Homo sapiens: one gene and its partners. The protein of the gene in region 2 purifies or fractionates together with the protein of the main gene of each other region. This does not show direct contact. Each region holds a gene or a part of one and is shown on either strand. Other genes may lie near its edges.

Region 1 (3,513 bases), on a different chromosome or scaffold from region 2:
CCTTAACCACAGATCTTTTGCTCTCGATGTGAGCCAGTGGTAAAATTAAATTAAAATGTGGGGTATTTTTGCCCTCCCTTTTATTCTTTCTAATGGACATGGAAATGAACATCAAACTGGGAGAAAGAACCATTTAACATTTAATTAATTTAAAATAGTGTATTGAGCACCGGTATGTGCTCTGGCCATAAAAGAATTCACAGTCCAAAACTAGGAGCAAGGCAGCAAACATCATCTTCTCCAGTGTGATGATATATAACAGAGGTTTGTACAAAGCGCTGTCAAAATACAGGGAAATAACTGCCTGTGAGTTTGTGGAATGCTTCACAAAGACAGTTGATCTGAGCCATCAGCAAGAAGTCAAGTTGAAGGACAAGGACAGCAGTACAAAATGTGGATTATGTCACAATCTGGCATAGTTGGATCTGTGAGTTTAAAATGAAATAGTTACTGCTGAGATACCATTTCTTCTCTTTGCAAGGATACACATATTCAACATACACAAGAGAGGAATGTAAAGAAGTGCCTAGGCCTCCTGTTTTATTGTTTTGTTTTGTTATTAATCTTCATTTTCTTTTGGAATCTGCCTAAGAGTTATGGCAACTGATGATGAGAAACTAAGACTACCAATGTTAAGTAAGTTCAGCATTTCAATTAAGTCTCAATTAAGTTGTGCCTATACTGATATTATTTCCCTAGATCCAGAAACTGACTCTATTGAAGGAAAAAAATCTGATATCAATCTTTTTAAAAGGGGAGGAATGTGGGAGAAAGCATGAAAATGGCTACTGGGAAAACTTATTTGTGTTACCTTTCTGAAGGAAAATACATTTTTTATTCCTTCAATTGTTGAACCTTTCCTCCACCCTCAGGAGTTGTGAACAGATGTGTGTACAGCACAACCAAGGCAGCCGTGATTGGCCTCACAAAATCTGTGGCTGCAGATTTCATCCAGCAGGGCATCAGGTGCAACTGTGTGTGCCCAGGTGAGTAAGGCACACCTGTTTTGTAAGCAAAGTTTTACTGAAACACTTCCACACCCAATTTGCTTATGTTATTGCCTATGGCTGTTTTCATGCTACAAAGGCAGAGTTTAGTATAATAGTTGCAACAGATAAAATGACTCTCAAAGCCATAAATATTTTTTGTCTGCCTCTTTACCAAGAAAGGTGTGCCGATCCCTCATACAAAGCAAAGAAGAAAAGCAGAACTTTCCTTTTCTTAATAACTATAGGGGTGTGTCTCATTTTCACAATAACCGTAGATGTGTTTATTAAATTGATATGTACTTTTACCTGGTTCTACCAATCTAAAAGGAACTTAAGGTATCTAATAAGGATTATAATATTCTTTAAAAAGAAATGATTGCATATCCAGGATCAAGGTTTCCCTTGGTAGTGCACAATTGATAATGGGGGGTGGTGTGTGAAAGGGAAACATTTCAATATGACCTGGGGACCTTTCAAACCTGAAGGGCATGCCAGAATTTAGGGAAGGAGTTCATGGAGAGAATTGTGTGGTTTAGAAAGACCCACAAGAGATTCTGATTGAATCTTCAGTTGAAACCCACTGACTTAAAGAGGGGAAACTAAACATCCCCCAAGCTACAGAATTTCAGCGATTGAGATGTTCTGTTTTATTTTTCTTGGAACAGAAATGTAAACGTAGGTAACGCTAAGAAAAAGAAGAATGCATGAGAGGTCATTTCATTGGGTTTTAATGTACATCCTGGCGATACTTGAGTCTAGCTATTCTTGGTGCCATTTACCCAGTGGAATAAGTGGTAAAATGATTTGGAAAATGTGGTTGTTTCAGCGACTGGACTTATCAGGAGATTGGAAAATATGTTATCAAACTCTTTGGAACAAGGAACTAGCTGTGACTCAGTGAACCAATCACAGAAGAAAACTTGAGGAGGACTGAGTATGTCTGAGATGCTGCTGATGGTTGTATAGTCACAAATCTCCAGCCAGACTTGTGTAGACCCTGGCATAGTATGTCTGTGCCATGGACACAGCTGAACCCAGTGACATTGGAATACTCTAAAGGCATGGGCTTGCTCTACAGTTCTTATTTAATAGCCATTAGTACCAGTCATATGTAAGATATGATGTTCATTTACCTCAGAGGGAGAAAGCTATTAAAGCTGTAAGATTCTGAAGGAGTGTTAGTGAAAGCTTGAGGTGCACACTGTTGGTAAAACTGTGGACTTTAAGGAGGCTATTGAGGAAAGTGAGGAAAATATTATTGAAAATTAGAAAAAAGAGTGTCTTTGTCATACAGTTTCAGAAAGTACATCAACACTGTTGCCTGTAGTGTGAAGGTAGAAGATGTTCCTAATGAACTGGGTGATCTAATTAAGGTGATTTCTACCCAGAGTCTTGAAAGTGCTGGCTGCTTATAGTAAAATGTGACAAGAGACAGATAACCAACCTAAAGAGGGGGTTCCAAAATGGAGTCAGGCTTTCTGATTTTGAAGATTTCCAGCTTCATCAGAAAAAAATAGCAAATGATGCTAAAATTAAGAAATGTTTTCTGAATAAAGATCAAATCTATGGCACTCTCAGGAACATGATCTAAGGGTGAAGTATGACTGTAAAACCATTTGTTACAACCTCAGAAAGATCACATTATTTGCCAGAGTACTCTTTAGTCTGAAAAAGGGCCCTCTAAAGAGAATGAACAGTTTATGTCCGTTAACAAAAAAGTCTGGGTAACGTGCTCTAGGAGACCATAAACTAAGTGGAATTTTAAAATGTTAGCGTTGTTCTTATTTTTCTTTTTTAAAGTAAAATAACTTTAAATTAGATTAAATTATATTTTTGATTAAAAACTTGAAACTGTGGTTAAAAGTAGGCATTTGAAACAATGAAAATAGGCAAGGTGATAAGAAAAATTTAGCGCCACCTGAATTACCAAGGACTATGGTAGCCATGGGATTGTCCCCAAAGATGCCACAGTGAACTTGACAGCAAAGAATGGTTTTGAGATCATTGAGGCAAACTGGCTCCTTAAGCTGGCAAAGTGCTTGTACGATTTTATCTACATCTCAGGGTTATTGTGAGGATTAGCTGAGATCATATGCATAAATGTATTTAAAATCCATAAAGCATCATATAAATGCAATGTGACTAAAATATATGTCCTTGAGAATGCTGGGTGATTCATCCAGAGTCCCTACATAGTGTCACGAAGAATCATAGTCTGTGTTTTTAAAATCATAGAAATGTTATTGAAGAAATTATAAGCCTATTAAATAAGAGGCCTCAGGCAGGCAGCTGTAAAGTTGTCATTTTAAGTCAAGGAGAAGAATCTCACTGATTGTCATATGGAAAGGAAGTTTAGTTATCGATTTCTTTTTCAGTGAAAGTGAGTAACCAAGCTGAATATCCCCCTTTGATTTAGGAACAGTTGATACGCCATCTCTACAAGAAAGAATACAAGCCAGAGGAAATCCTGAAGAGGTACATCTAGCATTTAAAATGTATTTAAACCTTTTGTTAATAAATGCCC
Region 2 (3,513 bases):
TAAGTCCTTTGAGCTGTGTTTAGTATATTTGCATTCCCTGCTGGTAGAACAGAGATGAAAACTTAGTTGCTAGTACATAGTTCTCAATAAATGTTTATTAATTTAAATTGTCTTGTTATGATGGCCTAGAAGAGGTTGCCTTGACTACTTTTTAATCCAGCACTTCCTCTTTTGCACAACTTTTCATTTGATGATCACCTTTAATTCTAGGAATAGAAAACCTTTTTTGTTTGTTTGTTTTTGTTTTTGAGACAGAGTCTTTCTCTGCCACCCTGGCTGGACTGCAGTCGCTCAGTCATAGTTCTATGCAACCTCTAACTCCTGGGTTCAAGTGAATCTCCTGCCTCAGCCTCCTGAGTAGCTAGGACTATAGGTGTGCACCATTATGCCTGGCTAATTTTTCAGTTGTTTTGTAGAGAGGGGGTCATGCTGTGTTGTCCAGGCTGGTCTTGAGGTCCTGGCATCAAGCAATCCTCCTGCCTCACCCTCCCAAAGCTCTGGGGTTACAGGTGTGAGCCACTACATTTTGGCTGGGTGTGATAGCTCATACCTGTAATCCCAATGCTTTGGGAGGCTGAGGCAGGAGGATTACTTTAGGCCAGGGTCTCAATACCAGCCTAGGCCACAATGCAAGACCCCATCTCTACAAAAAATAAAAATACAAGAATTAGCTGGGCATGGTGACACGCTGCTGTAGTCCTAGCTACTTGGGAAGCTGAAGTGGGAGGATTGCTTGAGCCCAAGAATTTGAGGCTGCAGTGAGCTATGACTGTACCACTGTATTCCAGCCTGGGCTGCAGAGTGAGACCCTGTCTCTAAAATAATAATAATAATAAAATAATTTAAATGTTATTGGTATGCCCACATTAATGTGAAAAAATCTGGCAATTTCCAAGAAGACATAACAATCTTTAATATGTATGTACCTAATAACAAAGCAACAAAATGTGTGAGGCAGAAACGGAACTGCAAGGAGAAATGGATGAATACATGATTATAGTTGGAGACTTCAACACCCTCTGTCAGTATTGGACAGATCCAGTAGTTAGAAAATCAGTAAAGACATAGTTGAACTAAACAGCACCTTCAGGCCAGGCACGGTGGCTCATGCCTGTAATCCCAGAACTTTGGGAGGCCGAGGTGGGTGGATCACTTGAGGTCAGGAGTTCGAGACCAGCCTGGCCAACGTGGTGAAACCCGTCTCTACTAAAAATACAAAAATTAGCCGGGTGTGGTAGTGGGCACCTGTAATCCCAGCTACTCAGGAGGCTGAGGCAAGAGAATCGCTTGAACCTGGGAGGTGGAGGTTGCGGTGAGCTGAGATCGCGCCACTGCACTCCAGCCTGGGTGACAGAACAAGACTGCATTTCAAAATAAATAAATAAATAAATAAATAAACAAACAACAGCACCTTCAGTCAACTGAATTTATTTGACATACACCACTTCATCCAATAATCAAAAATACACATTCTTCTCAAGATCACACAGAATGTTCGTCAAGACAGACTACATTATGGGCCATAAAACATACCTTAACAAATTTAAAAGAAGAGAGATCATACAGTGTCTGCTCTCAGACCACAACATAATTAAACTGGAAATAAATAACAAAAGATAATTGGAAAAAAACAAAATACTTGGAGATTAAACAACACACTCTAAAAAACACATGTGGGCCAGGCATGGTGGCTCATGCCTATAATTCCAGCACTTTGGGAGGCCAAGGTGGGCAGATTGCTTGAGCTCAGGAGTTTGAGACAAGCCTGGGCAACATGGTGAAACTCCAACTCTATAAAATACAAAAAAATTAGCAGGGTGATGTGGTACACACCTTCCGCCATGTTGGCCAGGCTGGTCTCAAACTGCTGACCTCAGGTAATCTGCCCACCTCAGCCTCCCAAAGTGCTGGGATTACAGGCATAAGCCACTGCGCCTGGCCACAATTTTTGTTTTATAGAATTATAAGGAATTATATAATTATATATAAAATATGTAATCATAGAATAATCATAAAGTATTATATTTTATAGAATTATAAACAAATGCCCCTCTTTATTGCTGATCATCTTTCTTGTTCTGAGGTCTACTTTATCTGAAACTAAATTAAGCTACTCCAGCTTTCTTTTTTTTTAAACAACTTTATTGAGATATAATTTGCATATCACAATACTGATCCTTTTGAAAAATTTTTTTTTTTTTGAGACGGAGTCTTGCTCTGTCACCCAGGCTGGAGTGCAGAGGTGCGATCTTGGCTCACTGCAACCTCTGTCTCCTGGTTCAAATGATTCTCCGGTCTCAGCCTCCTGAGTAGCTGGGACTACAGGTATGCACCACCGCACCTGGCTAATTTTTTTATTTTTTTAGTAGAGATGGGGTTTCACCATGTTGGCTAGGCTAATCTTGAACTCCTGACCTCAAGTGTTCTGCCTGCCTCAGCCGCCCAAAGTATTGGGTTTACAGGTGTGAGCCACCGTGCCCGGCTGAGAACCCTGTTTTAAAGGCTATTAAGATAAATTTTAAAATTGTCCTTTTGGGACATCTAATCATAAATAACAATGTAGCATTCTTGAATTAATCTACTGTTTTGCAGTAGAAATGGTTCGAATGTATGGGTAATAGTTTTAAAACTTGAATCTTCATTTCACTTGAGACTTCTTTCCACAGGCCATTTTGCAACCTGTGTTGGCAGCAGAAGATTTTACTATCTTTAAAGCAATGATGGTCCAGAAAAACATTGAAATGCAGCTGCAAGCCATTCGAATAATTCAAGAGAGAAATGGTAAAATGTTGAAGTTAGAAATCTAAGTACTAAATGCATTTTTTTTTACAGTTTTGACTATTCTAATATGGTCTTAAATGTAGCTGTCTCATGTACATTTATTTCAAGTTTGAAAGACTTCAGCTGACTTGAGATTTTAGAGTATATGGCTGGGTGCAGTGGCTCACGCCTGTAATCACAGCACTTTGGGAGGCTGAGGCGGGCAGACCATGAGGTCAGGAGATCGAGACCATCCCAGCTAACACAGTGAAACCCCGTCTCTACTAAAAATACAAAAAAATTAGCTGGGCGTGGTGGCGGGCACCTGTAGTCCCAGCTACTTGGGAGGCTGAGGCAGGAGAATGGCGTGAACCCGGGAGGTGGAGCTTGCAGTGAGCTGAGATCGCGCCACTGCACTCCAGCCTGGGTGACAGAGTGAGACCCTGTCTCAAAAAAAAAAAAAGAGTATAAACTTCCTGATTTGTATTTGACATCTCAAAGAAAGGAGACCAGAATTCAATGATACTTTGGATTTCACAGAGTTCAATTTTCTGCCCAGCCATTATGTTTATGAAGTTGAGTATTTTTGAATGGTCATAGTTGTGGTTACTGTTGAGAGGTGTCCATCCTTTTTCTGGCTTAAGATTGTTAGGACCTTTGTAGGAAGCAGTGGTTCTTTTTTTTTTTTTTTTTGAGACGGAGTCTCGCTCTGTTGCTCAGGCTGGAGTGCAGTGGCATGATCTCGGCTTACTG
Region 3 (3,513 bases), on a different chromosome or scaffold from region 2:
GAACTTGGTGCTTATATTATTGAACGTGATTTTTTAAAATATTGTATAGTATGTCAACATCTGGAAGATCTGCATAACTCAATGAACCAGTATTTTTCAAATGACTAATGCATGATATTACAGAATCATGCATGGATAAATGATCCATTCAGGATGCACATTAGACCAGTGGATTTCCATATAAGTTATTTGAAAAAATATTGACATTCTTAAATTTTCCACATTGCAACTGGCCTTTTTAAAATTACCAGTTGTCGAGTTTTGAAACAGTATGAAAGAATTGAATTATTTGAAAAATCTGTAAAAATATTTCTTCTCTTTTTCAAACTGTATCTGTGTGAGGCCAGAATTTTTTTTTTTTTTTTGAGATGGACTCACTCTGTCACCTAAGTTGGAGTGCAGTGGCATGATCTCGGCTCACTGCAACCTCTGCCTCCTGGGCTCAAGCGATTCTCATGCCTCAGCCTCCCAAGTAGCTGGGATTACAGGTGCACACCACCACACCCAACTGATTTTTTTGTATTTTTAATAGAGATGGGGTTTCACCATGTTGGTCAGGCTGGTCTTGAACTCCTGATCTCAGGTGATCCGCCCACCTCGGCCTCCCAAAGTGCTGGAATTACAGGCTTGAGCCACCATGCCCGGCCCAGATTTTTCCTATATATACTTTAAATCAATATATCACCACAGATTGAATGTATGGGCAGATAAAGAGATGCTTCTGGGCCGGTGTGGTGGCTCACGCCTATAATCCCAGCATGTTGGAAGGCCAAGGCGGGTGTGTCACTTGAGGTCAGGAGTTCAAGACCAGCCTGGCCAACATGGTGAAACCCCATCTCTACTAAAAATACAAAAATCAGCCAGGCATCTCTACTAAAAATACAAAAATCACCTGGCGTGGTGGCGTGCACCTGTAGTCTCAGCTACTCGGGAGGCTGAGGCATGAGAATCACTTGAACCCAGGAGGTGGAGGTTGCAGTGAGCCGCCGTTGAACCACTGCACTCTAGCCTGGGTGACAGAGCCAGACTGTCTCAAAAAAAAAAAAAAAAAAAAAAAAGATGCTTCTGAATTTTATTTGCTAAAATTTTGTAATGAATTTTATAGTTTCTATATACATGAGGGATATTGCTCTGTTCTTTTCTTTAGGGGAAGGTTTTGAATTACAAATTACGTATGTTTAATATATAGGGCTGTTAAGGTTTTCTGTTTCTTCAGTGAGCTTTGGTAGTTTGTCTTTCAAGGAATTGGTTCATTTCAGCTAATGTGTCAAATTTATTGTCATATAGTTCCTAATATTACCTTATTTTTTTATCTGTGTAGGATCTATAGTGATATCCCCATACTTATTCCTTATATTTGTAATATCTTTTTTCTCATCAGTGTGACTAAAAGTTTATTAATTTTACACAAAAAACCAGATTTTGGCTTCACTGATTTAATCTATGTTTGTTTTCTTTCTCATTGAATTTTGCTCTTTTATAAAATCTCTTTTTTTCTCCTTACATTGTAAATAATTTGCTTTTTTTTTTTTTTTTTTTTTTTTTTCTAATTTCTTACAATGGAAGCTTAGGTTAGGGGTCAGCAAACTTTTTCTGTAAAAGGCCAATTAATATTTTAGCCTTAGTGGACCAAATAGCCTCTCCCACAGCTACTCAACTCTGCCCTTATAGCATGAAACATCCATAGACAATAAGTCAATGATGAGACATTGTTAAATTGCAATAAAAAATTATTTACAAAAATGGGCTGTGGGCCATAGTTTGATCCCTGGTTTAGCTCATCAATATTTTTTTCCTAAATGTTTAATGCTGTAAATTTTCCTCTGAGGACTGCTTTATTTCTATCTGATGACTTTTTATGTGTTTTCATTTCGAAATATTTTCTTATTTCCTTTGTGGGTTTTTTTTTTTTAACTCATGAACTTATTTACAAATGTGTTGATGATTTCTAAATGTTTAGAGATTTTCCAGCTAGCTTTCCATTATTTATTTCTAATTTAGTTTCATTTTGGTGAAAGAATATACTTTGTATGATTTTAATTCTTTATTTAGGTTTGTTTAATGATTCTGAATATGTTCTGTCTTGGTAAATGTTTCTTTTTTTTTTTTTAAGACAAAGTAGTGTCTTACTCTGTCGCCCAGGCTGGAGTGCAGTGATGCAGTCTCGGCTCACTGCAACCTCCACCTCCCTGGTTCAAGCGATTCTCATGCCTCAGCCTCCCGAGTAGCTGGGACTACAGGCGTGTGCCACCACACCCAGCTAATTTTTTTATATTTTTAGTAGAGATGGGGTTTCACCATGTTGGCCAGGCTGGTCTCAAACTCCTGACCTCAAGTGATCCACTCACGTCGGCCTCCCAAAGTGCTAGAATTATTCATGAGCCACCACACCTGGCCTTGGTAAATGTTTCATGTGCCCTTGACACGAATGTGTATTAAGCCCAAGAGTTTGAGACCAGCCTGGGTAACATGGCAAAACTCTGTCTCCACAAAAAATATAAAAATTAGTTGGATGTGATGGCATGTGCCTGTAATGCCAGCTACTCAGGAGGCTGAGGTGAGTGTGTTCTATAAACGTCAGGTCAAATGAGTTGACAGTATTTTTCTAGTCTTCTGTAGTCTTACAGATTTTCTGTGTATTTATTCTATCAGTTGAGTTTAGTTATTGAGATTGGTTATTAAAATTACCAATTACAATTGAATATTTCACTTTGTAGTTCTGCAAGTTGTTACTTCATTTTATTAGAAGTTCTGTTATTAGGGCAGGCATTTATATTTAGGATTGTTATGTCTTGATGTTTCTGTTTTTGTTTTAATGTCTTTGGTTATTTATGGAGAATTCCTTATAAATTCATTTTTATTTTTGAGCCATCTCATGTATCATATTTTTTTAAAAGGATATTTGATACTTGATTTTCAGAAATGTGTTAGGAAACCTTTTGGAGCCATTAAGATACATATGTAGCCTTAATTCTTTAAATTATAAGACCTTTGGCATACTATCCAGCACTTTGGGAGGCCGAGGTGGGCGGGTCATTTGAGGTCAGGAGTTCGAGACCAGCCTGGCCAACATGATGAAACCCTGTCTGTACTCAAAATACAAAAATTAGCCGGGCATGGTGGTGCACGCCTGTAGTCCCAGCTACTCAAGAAAGTGAGGCAGGAGAATTGCTTGAGTCCGGGAGGCAGAGGTTGCAGTGAGCTGAGATGGTGACAGTGAGACCCTGTCTCAAAAAAAGAAAAAAGAGAAGAGACGAGAACAGAAGAGAAAGAGGGAGGGAGGGAGAGAGAAGGGAGGGAGGGAAGGGGAGGAAGAGAAGGAAGGGGGGAGGAAAGAAAGGAAGAAAGAAAGAAAAAACAGATGTTTAGTAACTTTCTCGAGTAGTACAGTCATTACCATAAATAAGTTTTAGAATATTTTCATCCTACCGTAAGATCTCTCTTGTTCATTTACAGTTAATCCCCATTACCCCCAGCCCAGAGAACCACTAACTTTCTGTCTCTATAAATTTG
Region 4 (3,513 bases), on a different chromosome or scaffold from region 2:
TTTAGAGATGATTTAACTTATATGGGAGCGTATGTGTAGGTTGTATGCAAATACTACACGATATTTTATCAGGGACTTGAGTGTCTGTGGATTTTGGCATCCTCGGGGGGTGCTTGGAACCAGTCCCCCTGGATACCTGAGGAGTGACTGTACTGTGTGATAGCAGCAGTATGGGATGGAAAGATGAGATCCTAGTGGTGCAGGTACATCAGTTGGACATTTGGTGTAACTCACCAAAAGTGAAAAAAACAGAGAAACAATATTTGTGGTGAATTAAGAGATTGAGAAGCACCGAATTGAATTGAGAGGTGGTTTTGACTTCCTGAAATCTCCCCACACCATTTTATAACTCCTCAGTTTTTCCATTTAGCTTTACCTTCTTCTGTGACAGAGATTCATTCATTGTCTTTCCTTACTATGCTTTAAGCAACTCTTACACTTCTGTATAGAAAAGGTGTTTCATTCCCTCTTTTCATTTTGATCAACATATCTATATAGCTACCCTCAGGATTTTGAAGTCATAAATGTGGGCATTTGGGAGGGTAGCATGAGAAGAGCATTTAATTAAAAATAGCTATATTGTGTTTCTTTATTTTAGAGTACTATTAATCCCGTAGATGCAATATATCAACCTAGTCCTTTGGAACCTGTGATCAGCACAATGCCTTCCCAGACTGTGTTACCTCCAGGTAATTTGGGAAAATGTTTCTTAGATTCATTGATGAGAAAAAAATAATTTGTGTGGCTGTCATAGCAGTCTTAGCTATTACTGTTTATTTTTGATTTTCCTTGTTTTTAATAAAAGCACTCAAAAAATAATACAGCCAAAAGTGAACTGAAAAAAGATGATAATGTTTTGATATTGGGGCTTTACTGAAGTGTGATGAAAGTGGTTTTGTTATTCAAAGTGAGATAGAAAACAAACTTGGTTACTACGATTTGGATTCACTGGTAGAACAGGATTCTATGACTCAGAATTCATGGCTAGCGAGGAAAAATTACTATACCTTATTCTGGATAATCCAGGGATGTTCCGTTTTGGGGTATTCTGTGTAGCTCTGAACAATACAAATGGTATGTTCATGGTAGATTTTAAGATAATGAGAAAGTGAAGAGGGAAATTTATGATGCCTACTGATCACATGACATCTGGGTTTTGTTTTGTTTTTTTTTTTTTTGTATAAAGCAATACATGCAATTTTTTAAAAACTGGCAAAGAAGGGCTCAGGGCCAATACCTAGCTACACTGACTGATTCCTTTTGCCCTTTTGTTATATCCAACATTTCTATGTTCTCGATGGCATAGTGAAGTCAGAAATTGTACTGTAAAATGGAAAACTCTTTTTAAAAGTACTAGTAAGTATGTGAAATCCTTTTGTGAGTTTTTACTTCTTAAGTGAATTAGCTTAAACTACCTCTTGGGGCTAAAGAGGAACAGGTACTGTACTCCACTTCAGATTTTTTGTGGTTTGAGGCTCAGAAACACATTATCATCAGAAGCATTTGTTGGTTTTACAGCATAGTTATACTGCAGTATTGGCCTACTGTGGCTGGTTTTTTGATATCCTGCCTGGTATCTTAGTACTCTGTAGCCTATCATCATTGAGTTTAAGAGGCTAGGAAGTCAAAAGGAAGGAGTAGCATGGAACTAGACTTAATGAAATAAAGTTTCAAAAATTACTGGCCTTTAGGATTTTGAATCCCAGACAATTACAGTCAATAGAATGTGTGTTTGGCTGTTTCTGTACCTTATTTTATACGTTCAAATCTCCTAGAACCTGTTCAGTTGTGTAAGTCAGAGCAGCGTCCATCTTCCCTACCAGTTGGACCTGTGTTGGCTACCTTGGGACATCATCAGACTCCTACACCAAATAGTACAGGTACAGATTTGCATAATTTCTTTATGTCTCATAACTCTATTAACATTTGAGGTTTGTTTGTGACCTCTGATGAGGAGGGGGAAAGTTGAAGAAATGTGTTGTATATTTTCTGTTGGAGATATGTTAGTTTTAACATTATAGTTCCATACATGAAGTGGTTAGCTTTGTGTTTGAAAGAGAAGCTTTAGTTAAGTTTTATTTATTTTTAAGTTTTTAAAATTTTTATTTTTGAGACAGGGTCTCACTCTGTCATTCAGGCTGGAGTGCAGTGGTACGATCAGGGCTCACTGTAGTTTTGACCTCCCAGGCCTCAGGCTCCCAAGTAGCTGGGACCACAGGCACACACACCACACTTGGCTGATTTTTAATTTTTGTAGAGAGGAGTCTCCCTATGTTGCTCAGGCTGGTCTCAAACTCTTGGGCTCAAGCAGTCTTCCTGCCTCAGCCTCCCAGTGTGCTGGGATTATACAAGCATGAGGCACCATGCCTGGAATAATTTAAATAAAATAAAATATTACAGAGTTTTGTTTGTTTGTTACCTTAACATTTATTTGGTGATCTATGTTGACTTTTTGAAAAATTTACTCCAGCTAGACTTGCATACTTTCTTATTATGAAGCTGACACAGAAGTGCACAGAATAAAAACTGCAAGTCCTCTTTACTCTCCCCCCAGTAATTTGCATACATGTATGTGCATATACACTTATGTCGTGTATTTTTATTGTTTTTGTTTAAACCTAACTTAGGTTATGTGTTTCTGTGACTTGCGTTTTTCCTTTAACAAAGAACACTTAGAGCACTTTCCATGTTTGTAAAATTAGGTCTACAGCATTCTTTTTACAGCTGCCTGGGCAGGTATTGCTTGTTTTTTCCACTGATGGAAGCAATACTTCAGTGATATCCTTGTACAGCACCTTTGGCATATGTATATTTTTTTAGAAAACATTTATCAGTCTTTCACCTTTTTGCCAGTTTTATAGTTAGAAAAAAGATACTTCATTTTAATTTGCATTTTCTTTTTGTTTGTTTAAACGTTTTGTTTTTTGTTTTTGAGATGGAGTCTCACTCTGTTGCCCAGGCTGGAGTCCAGTGGCACTGTCTCGACTCACTGCACCCTCCACTTCCTGGGTTGAGGTGATTCTCCTGCCTCAGCCTCCTGAGTAGCTGGGATTAAAGATGTGCGCCACCACGCCCCACAAATTTTTGTATTTTTAGTAGAGACGGCATTTCACTATGTTGGCCAGGCTGGTCTCGAGCTTCTGACCTCAGGTGATCTGTCCACCTCCACCTCCCAAAGTGCTGGGATTACAGGTGTGAGCCACCGCGCCCAGCCTGCATTTTCTTAATTCGTTTAGGCTTAGGGTCTTTATTTTTTCTCTGTTTTACAGGGATACTATCAGTGTTAGATACTAGATTTATCTTGTTTTAAAATTAATTAAATGTATGTTGAATAACTTGTAGAACCAAACTCAAGGAAGCATCTAGCACTTTTCACACTGTTAAACCTGGAAACCAAAACCAAAACCACTCTTGAAGAAGTGGGAGATCAGCCCCTTTTGTTCATCCTCAGATTTTTTTCCCGGGTAGGATTTTTCCTGTGTAATGATGAATAATTACCCTGTGATTTAAAAA

The links.
Region 1: the proteins of CFAP36 (region 2) and BDH2 purify together in Homo sapiens (affinity purification with mass spectrometry; one large-scale study listed by BioGRID and IntAct). This does not show direct contact.
Region 3: the proteins of CFAP36 (region 2) and OSBPL11 purify together in Homo sapiens (affinity purification with mass spectrometry; one large-scale study listed by BioGRID and IntAct). This does not show direct contact.
Region 4: the proteins of CFAP36 (region 2) and OSBPL9 purify together in Homo sapiens (affinity purification with mass spectrometry; 2 studies listed by BioGRID and IntAct, with this or other methods). This does not show direct contact.

The regions. Positions count from the first base shown.
Region 1 is NC_000004.12:103,082,822-103,086,334, reverse strand, and holds part of BDH2 (dehydrogenase/reductase SDR family member 6), read left to right. Parts: exon of another isoform or gene 1-594; coding exon of another isoform or gene 595-636; exon of another isoform or gene 637-872; coding exon 873-986; intron 987-3,405; coding exon 3,406-3,464; intron 3,465-3,513. UniProt on the Homo sapiens protein: NAD(H)-dependent dehydrogenase/reductase with a preference for cyclic substrates. Catalyzes stereoselective conversion of 4-oxo-L-proline to cis-4-hydroxy-L-proline, likely a detoxification mechanism for ketoprolines.
Region 2 is NC_000002.12:55,526,212-55,529,724, forward strand, and holds part of CFAP36 (cilia- and flagella-associated protein 36), read left to right. Parts: intron 1-2,666; coding exon 2,667-2,781; intron 2,782-3,226; exon of another isoform or gene 3,227-3,513. UniProt on the Homo sapiens protein: May act as an effector for ARL3.
Region 3 is NC_000003.12:125,532,985-125,536,497, reverse strand, and holds part of OSBPL11 (oxysterol-binding protein-related protein 11), read left to right. Parts: intron 1-3,513. UniProt on the Homo sapiens protein: Plays a role in regulating ADIPOQ and FABP4 levels in differentiating adipocytes and is also involved in regulation of adipocyte triglyceride storage. Weakly binds 25-hydroxycholesterol. Interacts with OSBPL9 to function as lipid transfer proteins.
Region 4 is NC_000001.11:51,760,092-51,763,604, forward strand, and holds part of OSBPL9 (oxysterol-binding protein-related protein 9), read left to right. Parts: intron 1-598; coding exon 599-689; intron 690-1,775; coding exon 1,776-1,880; intron 1,881-3,513. UniProt on the Homo sapiens protein: Interacts with OSBPL11 to function as lipid transfer proteins.